3 linked regions of the Homo sapiens genome follow. Changing the gene in region 1 together with any one later gene gives a genetic interaction. Each region holds a gene or a part of one and is shown on either strand. Other genes may lie near its edges. The genes, in order: UBA2, CDC73 and ARGLU1.

Evidence for each region.
Region 2: changes in UBA2 (region 1) and CDC73 together harm fitness less than expected from each alone (positive genetic interaction), as found in Homo sapiens cells (one large-scale study listed by BioGRID).
Region 3: changes in UBA2 (region 1) and ARGLU1 together harm fitness less than expected from each alone (positive genetic interaction), as found in Homo sapiens cells (one large-scale study listed by BioGRID).

The regions. Positions count from the first base shown.
Region 1 is NC_000019.10:34,434,726-34,438,381, reverse strand, and holds part of UBA2 (SUMO-activating enzyme subunit 2), read right to left. Parts: intron 3,515-3,656; coding exon 3,414-3,514; intron 1-3,413. UniProt on the Homo sapiens protein: The heterodimer acts as an E1 ligase for SUMO1, SUMO2, SUMO3, and probably SUMO4. It mediates ATP-dependent activation of SUMO proteins followed by formation of a thioester bond between a SUMO protein and a conserved active site cysteine residue on UBA2/SAE2.
Region 2 is NC_000001.11:193,233,488-193,237,143, reverse strand, and holds part of CDC73 (parafibromin), read right to left. Parts: intron 889-3,656; coding exon 788-888; intron 1-787.
Region 3 is NC_000013.11:106,544,138-106,547,793, reverse strand, and holds part of ARGLU1 (arginine and glutamate-rich protein 1), read left to right. Parts: intron 1-3,633; coding exon 3,634-3,656. UniProt on the Homo sapiens protein: Dual function regulator of gene expression; regulator of transcription and modulator of alternative splicing. General coactivator of nuclear receptor-induced gene expression, including genes activated by the glucocorticoid receptor NR3C1.

The sequences.
Region 1 (3,656 bases):
TACACCTGAGTGTCAAATATGAGTTTACCTTGATCACACTAAACAGAAAAACTACTGGAAAGACAAACAGCAGCTTTCCAAGAAATTATTTCTCAAAGTTGTAAATGTTATCTAAATATTATTCGCAGCCATTTTCTTATATGTGTTTTTTTTTTTTTTTTGAGCAAAACTAAGTGGGTCTGGGGAATACAGCCATATCCTTATAATCTCCTGAAATTAAGTAAACTACAAGATTAATTTCAAGATATATCTCCCTACACAGAAAAATCTTAGGTGTTACTAAACCAAATACTCTTCATTTTATTGATATACGTTTCTTTTTGGCGGTGGGGAGACGGAGTCTTGCTCTGTCACCCTGGCTGGAGTACAGTGGCATAATCTTGGCTGCAATCTCCGCCTCCCAGGTTCAAGCAATTCTCCTGCCTCAGGCTCCCAAAGAGCTGGGATTACAGGCATCTCCCACCACTCCCAGCTAATTTTCATATTTTTAGTAGAGACGGGGTTTTTCCATGTTGGCCAGCTTGGTCTTGAACTCCTGACTTCATGTGATTCGCCCGCCTTGGCTTCCCAAAAGTGCTGGGATTACAGGCGTGAGCCACTGCGCCCAGCCCATTTTATTGATACACATTCAAGTTTAAAATTACAATTTAAGGAATTTATGCCTTGGAAGAAGTACATGACACCTGAGACAACTTTTCAAAACTATCAAATGAATCATCTTTCATTATCTCAGATATTCCTAACCTCAGTCTCTTCTTTTTTTCTTTTTGTCTGAGACGGAATTTCGCTCGTTGCCCAGGTTGGAGTGCAATGGCGTGATCTAGGCTCACCACAACCTCTGCCTCCCGGGTTCAAGTGATTCTTTTGCCTCAGCCTCCCAAGTAGCTGGGATTACAGGTGCGTGCCACCACACCCAGCTAAATTTTGTATTTTTAGTAGAGATGGGGTTTCACCATGTTGGCCAGGCTGGTCTCGAACTCCTTACCTCAGGTGATCCGCCCGCCTTGGCCTCCCAAAGTGCTGGGATTACAGGCGTAAGCCACCATGCCCAGCCACCTTCAGTCTTAATACACAGTGGTGTGTCAGAATCACAGTAACAAGGATATAAAAAGCAATGTCTGGCCGGGCGTGGTGGCTCATACCTGTAATCCCAGCACTTTGGGAGGCCAAGGCAGGCGGATCACCTGAGGTCAGGAGTTTGAGACCAGCCTGGCTAACATGGCAAAACCTCATCTCTACCAAAAATGCAAAAATTAGCCAGGCTAATTGTTCAAGAATCAAAACTCTCAAATACTGTTTTAATATAAATTGCAGCAGATTTAGAGTTTTCTCTGAAACACCATTTCTGATGCCCTCAGCCTTCCAATATGCTTTCTTGAGGGTAGCCACATGGCAAGCAGTCATGAGACTCATACTGCAATGCAGACAGAGAACTTCCGTCTTGATCTGTCAACAGATACTGAAGGCCTCCACTTATTCAACAACTTAATACGCACTGACATACACAACAGTCTTTTGTAGAATGGTATTCAATAAGGTTCCAAGAATAACATTTAACAGTTAAAAGAAACAAAGACACAATTTCTAACATGAATAAGCTGCCAAAAAAAATTAGACGCAACCAGCAAATGTTAAGTACATTATAATTCTCTTTCTATAGTTTCAAAACATGGAAAACGACTCTTCAAATGTAACTACAATATTTAACTTCTTAAAAGAACTGAAAGAAAAAATATCTGAATAGCAAATGAAGCCGTGTTGAGGTTTTAAAAACTGAGATATGTGCCAGGCATGGCGGCTCACACCTATAATCCCAGCACTTTGGGAGGCCGAGGCAGGTGGATCACCTGAGGTCAGGAGTTGAAGACCAGCCTGACCAACATAGAGAAACCCCGTCTCTACTAAAAATACAAAATTAGCCAGGCGTGGTGGCGCACGCCTGTAATCCCAGCTACTCGGGAGACTGAGGCAGGAGAATCGCTTGAACCAGGGAGACGGAGGTTGCGGCGAGCTGAGATCGCGCCACTGCACTGCAGCCTGGGCAACAAGAGCGAAATTCTGTCTCAAAAAAATAAACAAATAAATAAATAAACCAAAACAAAACTGAGGTATGAGCACACAGGTATTTTGTTCTATTATTCTCTAGTTGTATTTAAATGTTTGAAGTACTTCACAAATACACCCCTAAAAAGTTTTCAAAGTTCCCTTCCACATTATAAGCCCAGACTCTTAGACAACAGAATTTTTTGGTTTTTTTTTTTTTGAGACAGAGTTTCGCTCGTTGCCCAGGCTGGAGTGCAATGGCGTGATCTCAGCTCACCGCAACCTCCGCTTCCCCGGTTCAAGGGATTCTCCTGCCTCAGCCTCCCAAGTAGCTGGGATTACAGGTGCACACCACCACGCCCGCTGATTTTTGTATTTTTAGTAGAGACAGGGTTTCACCATGTTGGACAGGCTGGTCTCAAAATCCTGACCTCAGGTGATCCGCTCGCTTCGGGTTCCCAAAAAGTGCTGGGATTACAGGCATGAGCCATCACGCCTGGCTTTTTTTTTTTGAGATGGAGTCTCACTCTGTTGCCCAGGCTGGAGTGTGGTGCCATCTTGGCTCACTGTAACCTCCACCTCCGAGGTTCAAGCAATTCTCATGCTTCAGTCTCCCAACTAGCTGGGATTACAGGTACACGCCTCCACACCCAGCTAATTTTTGTATTTTTTGTAGAGACGTGGTTTCACTACATTGGAGAGGCTGGTCTCGAACTCCTGACCTCAAGTCATCTGCCTACCTCAGCCTCCCAAAGTGCTGGGATTACAGGCATGAGCCACTGCACGCAGCCGACACAAAGAAATTTTTGATGCCTGGTATATCATGCTTACCACTCTAAGGATTTTAATACAAAAGTCAAATGAAACAAAATGGCAGAGCTGAAAGATTTCCTTGCCCATAGTCTTTTGAGCACGTTTATAGCATTTTAAGTTTGTTTTTTGAGACAGAGGCTTGATCTGTAGCCCAGGCTGGAGGGCAGTGGTGCAATCTCAGCTTACTGCAACCTCTGCCTCTCAGGTTCAAGTGATTCGCCTGGCTCAGCCTCCCAAGTAGCTGGGATTACAGGCGCCGGCCACCATGTCCAGCTAATTTTTGTATTTTTAGTAGAGATGGGGTTTCACCATGCTTGCCAGGCTGGTCTCAAACTCCTGACCTCAGGTGATCCGCCCACCTCGGCCTCCCGAAGTGCTGGGATTACAGGTATGAGCCACTGCACCTGGCCCCGCATTTTAAGTTTTATATAAGCATAAAAGTCCTTACATTTTGGATGTTCACCTGTTCATTTTATATAAATACAAAGTTTATTTCCTCCTGCTCCAAGGTCTCAAATAAATATTTGGGAAGTTAAAAAAATAAAACTTTTCTTTACCTTTTTGATAGTAGTTACTTGTCCAAGATACCCAGCTGTTCCACTTTCAATAAGAGGAACATCAGCTGCCAGGCACATTCTATTAACATGGTTTCGGGCAGCTGGAAGTAAAACAAACAGTATGAGTTTTTGGGAAAAAAAAAATTAGTTATCTTTAATTAGGATGACACAGACTCAAAACTATCTTACTGGCTTCATTTTTTGTACAATTTTCTTATAGCTATGGCCAGAATAATACAACTG
Region 2 (3,656 bases), on another chromosome or scaffold:
GTGAAGCCCCCTCTCTACTAAAAATACAAAAAATTAGCCGGGCGTGGTGGCGGACGCCTGTAGTCCTAGCTACTCAGGAGGTTGAGGCAGGAGAATGGCGTGAACCCGGGAGGCGGAGCTTGCAGTGAGCTGAGATCGCGCCACTGCAATCCAGCCTGGGCGACAGAGCCAGACTCCGTCTAAAAAAAAAAAAAAAAACTGGCATCAATTTTAATCAAAATCTATGGACATGCAACAGTATTAATTTTTTTTTCCTATTGAGACGGAGTTTCGCTCTTGTTGCCCAGGCTGAAGTGATCTCGGCTCACTGCAACCTCCGCCTCCCGGGTTCAAGCGATTCTCCTGCCTCAGTCTCCCGAGTAGCTGGGATTACAGGTGTGCACCACCATGCCCGGCTAATTTTGTATTTTTAGTAGAGACAGGGTTTCATCATGTTGGTTAGGCTGGTCTCGACCTCCCGACCTAAGGTGATCCACCTGCCTCAGCTTCCCAAAGTGCTGAGATTACAGGTGTGAGCCACTGTGTCTGGCCAATGATTTTTAAGTGATCTAAAAATAATTAGTAATGTTGTGGGATAGGCAATATTCACTTTCAGATATACCTACACAGAAAGTATTAATATACAAAGCTTTTAAAAATATGTCACAGATGCTTAAACATTAACATATGTTACTTAACAGCAATCTTTTGACATACACATCATATGCGCAGAACTATATGACTGTTTCTCTTAAATAAAGTGAGAACATTTCTATACTGGATACAGTAAATACAAAGAGAATCTTACTTTTAGCAAATATATCAACTGGTGATCCATCAGGCAAAAGCCATGGCCAACCTTTGAACTGCCATGCAGGACCCTGCACAAAAACGGCTACAACGCGGTCCCTACAAGTAGAAAAGTGGGTGGGGGGAGGTAGGGGACAGACGGAGATTATTTCAAACTTGAGCTTTAGCTACTATAAATCCCTTAGGCAACAGTCCCATAAACATTCATGTGAAAGAGTCTTATCAATCCTTCCATGAAGCAAATACAGTACTTACCACCTTTTCAATATGATATTGCCATTAGAATGTATTAATGATTGCTATACTTCTCATGTATCTGGTTTTTACACCTAAGTCTTTTAAACATAATTCAATGGACAATACTCGTATGTAATCTTGTTTGCCCTTTCTGTTCCCTTCTGTTAATTAGAGTAGTGGCCCACTTTTCCAATGTAATAGGGAATAGTGGTTGATAACTATTAATCAAAAAAGTTGTTTAAAAAATCATTTAAAATTCAAACACATCTTAAATATTTTACTTTAACTAAAAATATTACATTATAGGAACTCATCAACCATTTTACGAGGTCCCAGGGCCTTATCTGAGTTCTTGTGATTACTTAGGAAGTAATCTGAGTATAGAAACCATTTAGACTTTTATAATTTTTGCAATTGTTTTACAACTGTTTCATTCACCCTAAATTTATAAGTAGTTTTTAAAGCATTTTTTTCCCAACCAAACAACCCAGTTTTCCTAGAAAGAACAAACTTCTTTGTAGGCCCTCAAATTTCATTATTTTATAAAATACTTAATTGAATTGAGAAATTATAAGAAGTACTGCCATAAACAGTTAAAGCCAATAACTAAAGCGGTGGGAACAAAACAACAACATTATCAGCAATAATGGTTAACATTAGTAGCATTTATTGAGCATTTACTATGTGTCAAGTGCCATTTTAAGGACTTTATGCGTTACTTATGATGTTAACACATTTAATCTTCAAAACAATCCAATGACCTCACTGTATTAGAAACCTCATTGTATAAATGAAGAAACAAGTGCATGGGCATGTTGGAGAAGAGAAAGGAGGAAGGTAGAAGTACAGAGAAAAGGAAGAAGAGAAGAAGAGAAGGAGGAGAATAAATTACTATGCTAGGGCACTGGGTATGCTACTGTTCCTATTTAAGGGCAGATAAATCATGAGAATAGCCATCTCAGTATTATTATGAAAATAGTTTTCACCTTGCAACTCTGTGAAAGGGTCTTAGGAATGACCTGAGGTCTGCAGACCACACTTTGATAACCACTGCAATTAATGACGACTGCAGACATACAAAAAAACATTAAACCAGGGTTACCTTCTATTCAAGCAAAGACCTACAACTATTAAAAACTGCCAGCTTAAAGTTCTCAACCTGCTCAAAATCTCCCTAAAACTTAAAGTATAGTAATAATAAAATAAAAAATTAAAAAAAATCTCTGAGACTAAAATTAAATCTTAAGTTAAAAAATTTCCCCTTTCATGGGATACATGCCTCAAACTGTCAAAATCATCTTTGGCAATGCAGCACACTATTAAATAATCTTTCAGTTTTATGATGTAACTTACAACAGTTGAAAGCCCAAGATGCCTGCCAAAGCAAAGGGAATTTGCTGGACAGAGGTCACTTATATTCTACTGGGTCTCATAGCATCAGCACGGAAGCAGAATAAAAATGTTACTCCCCATGAATTCTTGGAAGGACAATTAAAGGAAAAGGAAAATAAGGAAGTAGGGAAAATGCTGGAGGCTTCAATGGCTGGAGACCCTAACTAATACACACAAGCAGTATTTTACAGCATAGTGATGAGATTTGTATACACTGTATTATTTCTGCAAATACACTGCAAACATAAAATACAAGTGATATAACTTTCCTACTTGGTTTTAAGCTTGATATCTGAAATTCTCATCTTACTCATTTTCTATATTACTCAAAGTATCTATTAGGTACCAGAGAAGAATTATAATTTTAAATATATATATATATATTTATGTGTGTGTTTTAAATATATATATATTTTAAATTATATTATATATATAATATGTATATTATATATATTATAATTAAATTATATATATAAATAAATATATAAATTTTAAATATATATATGTGTGTGTGTGTGTGTGTGTGTGTGTGTGTGTGTGTGTGTGTGTGAGAGAGAGAGAGAGAGAGAGAGAGAATTATCCTACCAGTCTTGAGGCATAAGTTTAAGGGGCTGGTCTACTACTCTATAAGATACTGTGACACTAATTAATTGCAGTGCCCCCTGGTTGCAATTTTCTTAAGAAAATTTTTAATATTAATATTCTCAATGCCTTGACTTCTTAATGCCTGAAAACTAACAAGTACTTCAAAGGTAAATTCATCTAATGTGCCATGTGTTGCGTTCTCTGTATCACGGATATATACTCAACTTTTACTCCCGGTTAAAGAAATAAGGTAATTTGTGTGTCTAAATTTATAGGCACTTTATATTATAAACAGCTTAATATTTTGTTAAAGGACACTTAAATTCAATAAAAGTGTTAAACCATGATAAAAGAGCTATTCCTATTTTTATTACATTATTCCCTTACAATAAAATATGCCTTCATTTTTTTCTTACCAGAAAATTGAAATTCTCCAAACCAAAAATCTAAACATAGAATACCTTACATTAGCCTAATTTGCTGGGTTCTACAAGCTGATCCGGAACAAATGAACAAGTGGAAAGAATTTTTTACACTGGGTTTTCCAGAAGTTGGAATGTTTCTTCTTATAAGTAAAATCAAGTTTACTTATCCAAAATATAAAGTTATTGAGGAATTATTAGAATGTTAACATTATTGATGACCAAAGTAAA
Region 3 (3,656 bases), on another chromosome or scaffold:
CTTTACCTTACCCCCAACCCAATCCCCAATTCCCAACCCCGTCTCCAAAAGTGTACTCAGTTACGGGTTTTTAAAATCTTTTCAGAATGTCTGTAAAAGCATATTCAGGCAGATACAAATGCATAATATTTTAATTCTCCCTTTATTGCACAAAAGTAGCATGTACACAAGGAACTTTCTTTTTTTCATTTAACAGTGTAACTTGGAGATTTTTCCATTGCGGAACATAGGGGCCTCCTTTTTTCCTCTTACTTGTTTTTAATGGCTATACAATATTCTCCTTTATATATCTTCAGTAATTTATTTAGTGTACCCCATATTGGTGGATATTTGGGTTTTTTTCACATTCTTTTCTTTCTATAAACTGTGTTGTAATATGTAACCCTGTAAATATATCAGTTTCGCATGGGTGCAAAATTTGCACATTGCTGTACAAGTACATAATGTAAATTCCAGAAAATGTACTTGCTGGCATAAAGTATTACGAAGATGTAATTTTGATAGTGTGAGAGTGCTCTTTATATGATAGCATATGTGTGTTAGTCCATTTTTTGCTGCTCTAACAGGGTAATTTATAAAAATATTTGGCTCAGGGTTCTGGAAGCCGGGAAGCCTAAGAACATGGCACAGGCATCCCATGAGGTTTCCCCATGGTGGAAGGCATCACATGGCGAGCAAGCTAGACAGAGAGGGCCCTAGAGAGAGAGAAAAGTGGTGGCCAGACTCGTCTTTTTATCAGGAGCCCATTCCCATGGTAACCAACCCACATCCCACTCGGGTAATAACAGAATTAATCCATTCATGAGGATGAACCCCTCATGGCCTAATCACTGCTTAAATGCCCCACATCTTAATACTGTTAACAATGCCAGTTAATTCTAACAGCGACCTTTGGGGGACATACTGAAACCACAGCAGTGTGCTGTCACACTTTGAATTTCTGTCTTCTAGGGTAAAAAATGGTATATTTGTAATGTTCATTAGATTTCTCTTATGGATTAAGGTTGTGATGTTCTTTATGTACCCTCACTCTCCAGGGCTCTAGGATGCTTTCCTAGGGTTGAGTTAGAACCTTAGAAGAAAGTGAATCTGAGTATTTATATTGATAAAATGTTTCTTAGGCACACACACACATCCAAAGAACCCTTACTACATCTTGATTCAGTTGCACACACTAAGCTCTTACCCCAAATTTGTGATGATTTATTAAAACTGGATAAAGTGATTGGCATATGAATTCATTAATGATGACCGATAGCAGGCAGTTCTTTTTGTTGTAATATCAGTGAAAGCCTAAGGAAGAGAGTGGCTATTTGAAATAGATTCTGATGTACAGGTAGGATTTCCATAGAAGGAAAGAATGGCATGAGCAAAAGACGGGGGAACAAGATAGAAAGGAGAATTTAGAAGAGGAGTAGAAACAAAGCTGGAGCCAGGTTATAGAAAATCTTGTCTTAGAGAAACATTATACTTTAGGAAGTTAAGCTGTATGCCATGGACAGTGGATATCATTGGCAATTTGAGAACAAGAAAGAGTGAGCAGTGGTCAAGAAAGGTGAGTCTGGCAGTATCGTGTAGGATGGATTGAAGGACACACTGGAAACGGGCACCATTTTAGATGTACAAAAGATATGTGGCCCTAAACTGATGAAGCTGGCAAAAGAAATGAAAATAAACTCTAGGCAGAGAATATAAAACAAGAAGTAACAAACTTGACTGAAGAAGGAAGAGATGAAATAAAGCTATAGAATTTGAGTGGCGGAAGGGAAAGTGTAAAGGGCAGATTTATTTTAAGGATAAAGTGGAAGAATTTAAATCTTGAAACATGTTGAATTTTGAAGCAAGTCCTAGGTCTCCCAGGTGGATGTGTCCAGTAGCCAGGTCTAAATGTAGCATAGGAAAAAGGTTTTAGAGAGCTGTATCTTAAAGATACATTTTAGCTCTCTGTTGGATTTTCCACCATGCTCACCTGCCAGATTCTCTCACTGCTTGTAATTCTGATCTTTGTTATCTCCAACCTTACTTGACTGCGGTTGATTTGTTCCAACACCTATCTTTTAGTCTACGTCACATTGCTGTCTAAACTTCTTTGCGTTCTTCCCTTTTTGCTACTTAAGATAAAATCTCAACATTTTTTATTGCATACCGGAGTCCTGTTACCTTTTCCATCTTCCTCTGCCATAAATGCCTGTAAACCAGTCACTTTACACTTTATTTAAAAAATACATATATATCAATGGAGACAAAAGAAGTAATTAGTGTGTGGCATTAGAGAATGTATCAGAAGAGAGAACGTTTTTAAAAGACTTAAGTGAACAGAAGAATTTATTTGAATAAAGAGAAAAATCACTGAATTTGATAGATTTTGACCATACAGAAGAAAATTTTAGTAGAATAATGGAGATGGAATCAATGACCTAAAATTTGACTTTGAATGGGAATAGGTAGGCAGCTCAAAGGATGCAGCGAATGTTTTAAGATCACTGTCAGATAGAGGGGAAAAAGGATAAATCATGATAACTGATATTAAAAAGGGTTAGAGCAGGCTTTCTCAATTTTGGCACTGATTGGATCATTCTTTGTTGTGGGAGCTGTCTTCCATATTATAGGATGTGTAGCATTGTCCCAGTCTTCCACCCACTAGATGCCAGGAGCCATTCCCAGTTGTGGCAGCCAGAATCATCTCCATGCATTGCCTAATGTCCCCTTGGGGAAGGGATTAAAATTGTGCTTGGTTGAGAATTGAGAATTGAAGATGTGTGTATGGTATCTCTAGGAAGCATGAGAAGGGCCTGACTTTGGTAAAGAGGGGGAAATCTGTGGAAGAATGCGGGAAAGAAGTTGCTTGACATGGAAGGAGTTGAAGGCACTGCAGGAGTGGAATCAGTTATACCAGTGTCCTTTTGAAATTAGATAGCACTTTATAGTTAGTCAGGTCAGAAGGTTTTGTAATATTTTTCTTCAGGTAATTGGGTCTGTCGTGTTTCTTGGTTGTCTACTGATACTATAATATAGTCCCTTTTTTTTCAGCATGATTTGACCACACAAAAAGCCCCAGTGGAGATTTTTTCCTATGTTTCTGTTTTTTTGTGTGTGTGTATGCCCTTCAACTATAAATATGGCAATTGGTAGATAACCTGCTCTTTGAGTAAATCTGTACCTCGGTTTATAATTAACAATCTATTAATCTGGTACAATGAAGTTAGAGATAAAAATAGGTATAGAACAAAATCTGTCATCTCAACATGTGATTTGTGGAAATTAATTTCCACTTCCAAAATGTGTAAATGCTTTTCCATAATTTGTTCATTTATTTTCATTGAAAATGAAAGACAGAAAATGTAGATGTAATTAATAAAGGGTTCTCTTTTAATTTTCTTAATTCTTTTTTCTCTACCAAACTATGTGACCTTCGTCAGATTTTATGACACATGCCATTGTGTGTAAGTTGTCACCTCATAACTAAAATATTTTGAAGGCATGTAATTCATAGGAAGTCCTTGTTTTTACCCCCTTTTTTGCATTTGCATTAAAAATTTTTTTGTAGATACATAATAGATAACACCTGTTGCAGGGGTACATATGATAATTTTTAATACATTTCTATAATTAATTTTTACTTTTAACTTTCAGGCCGAAGAACAGTTGAGAATTGT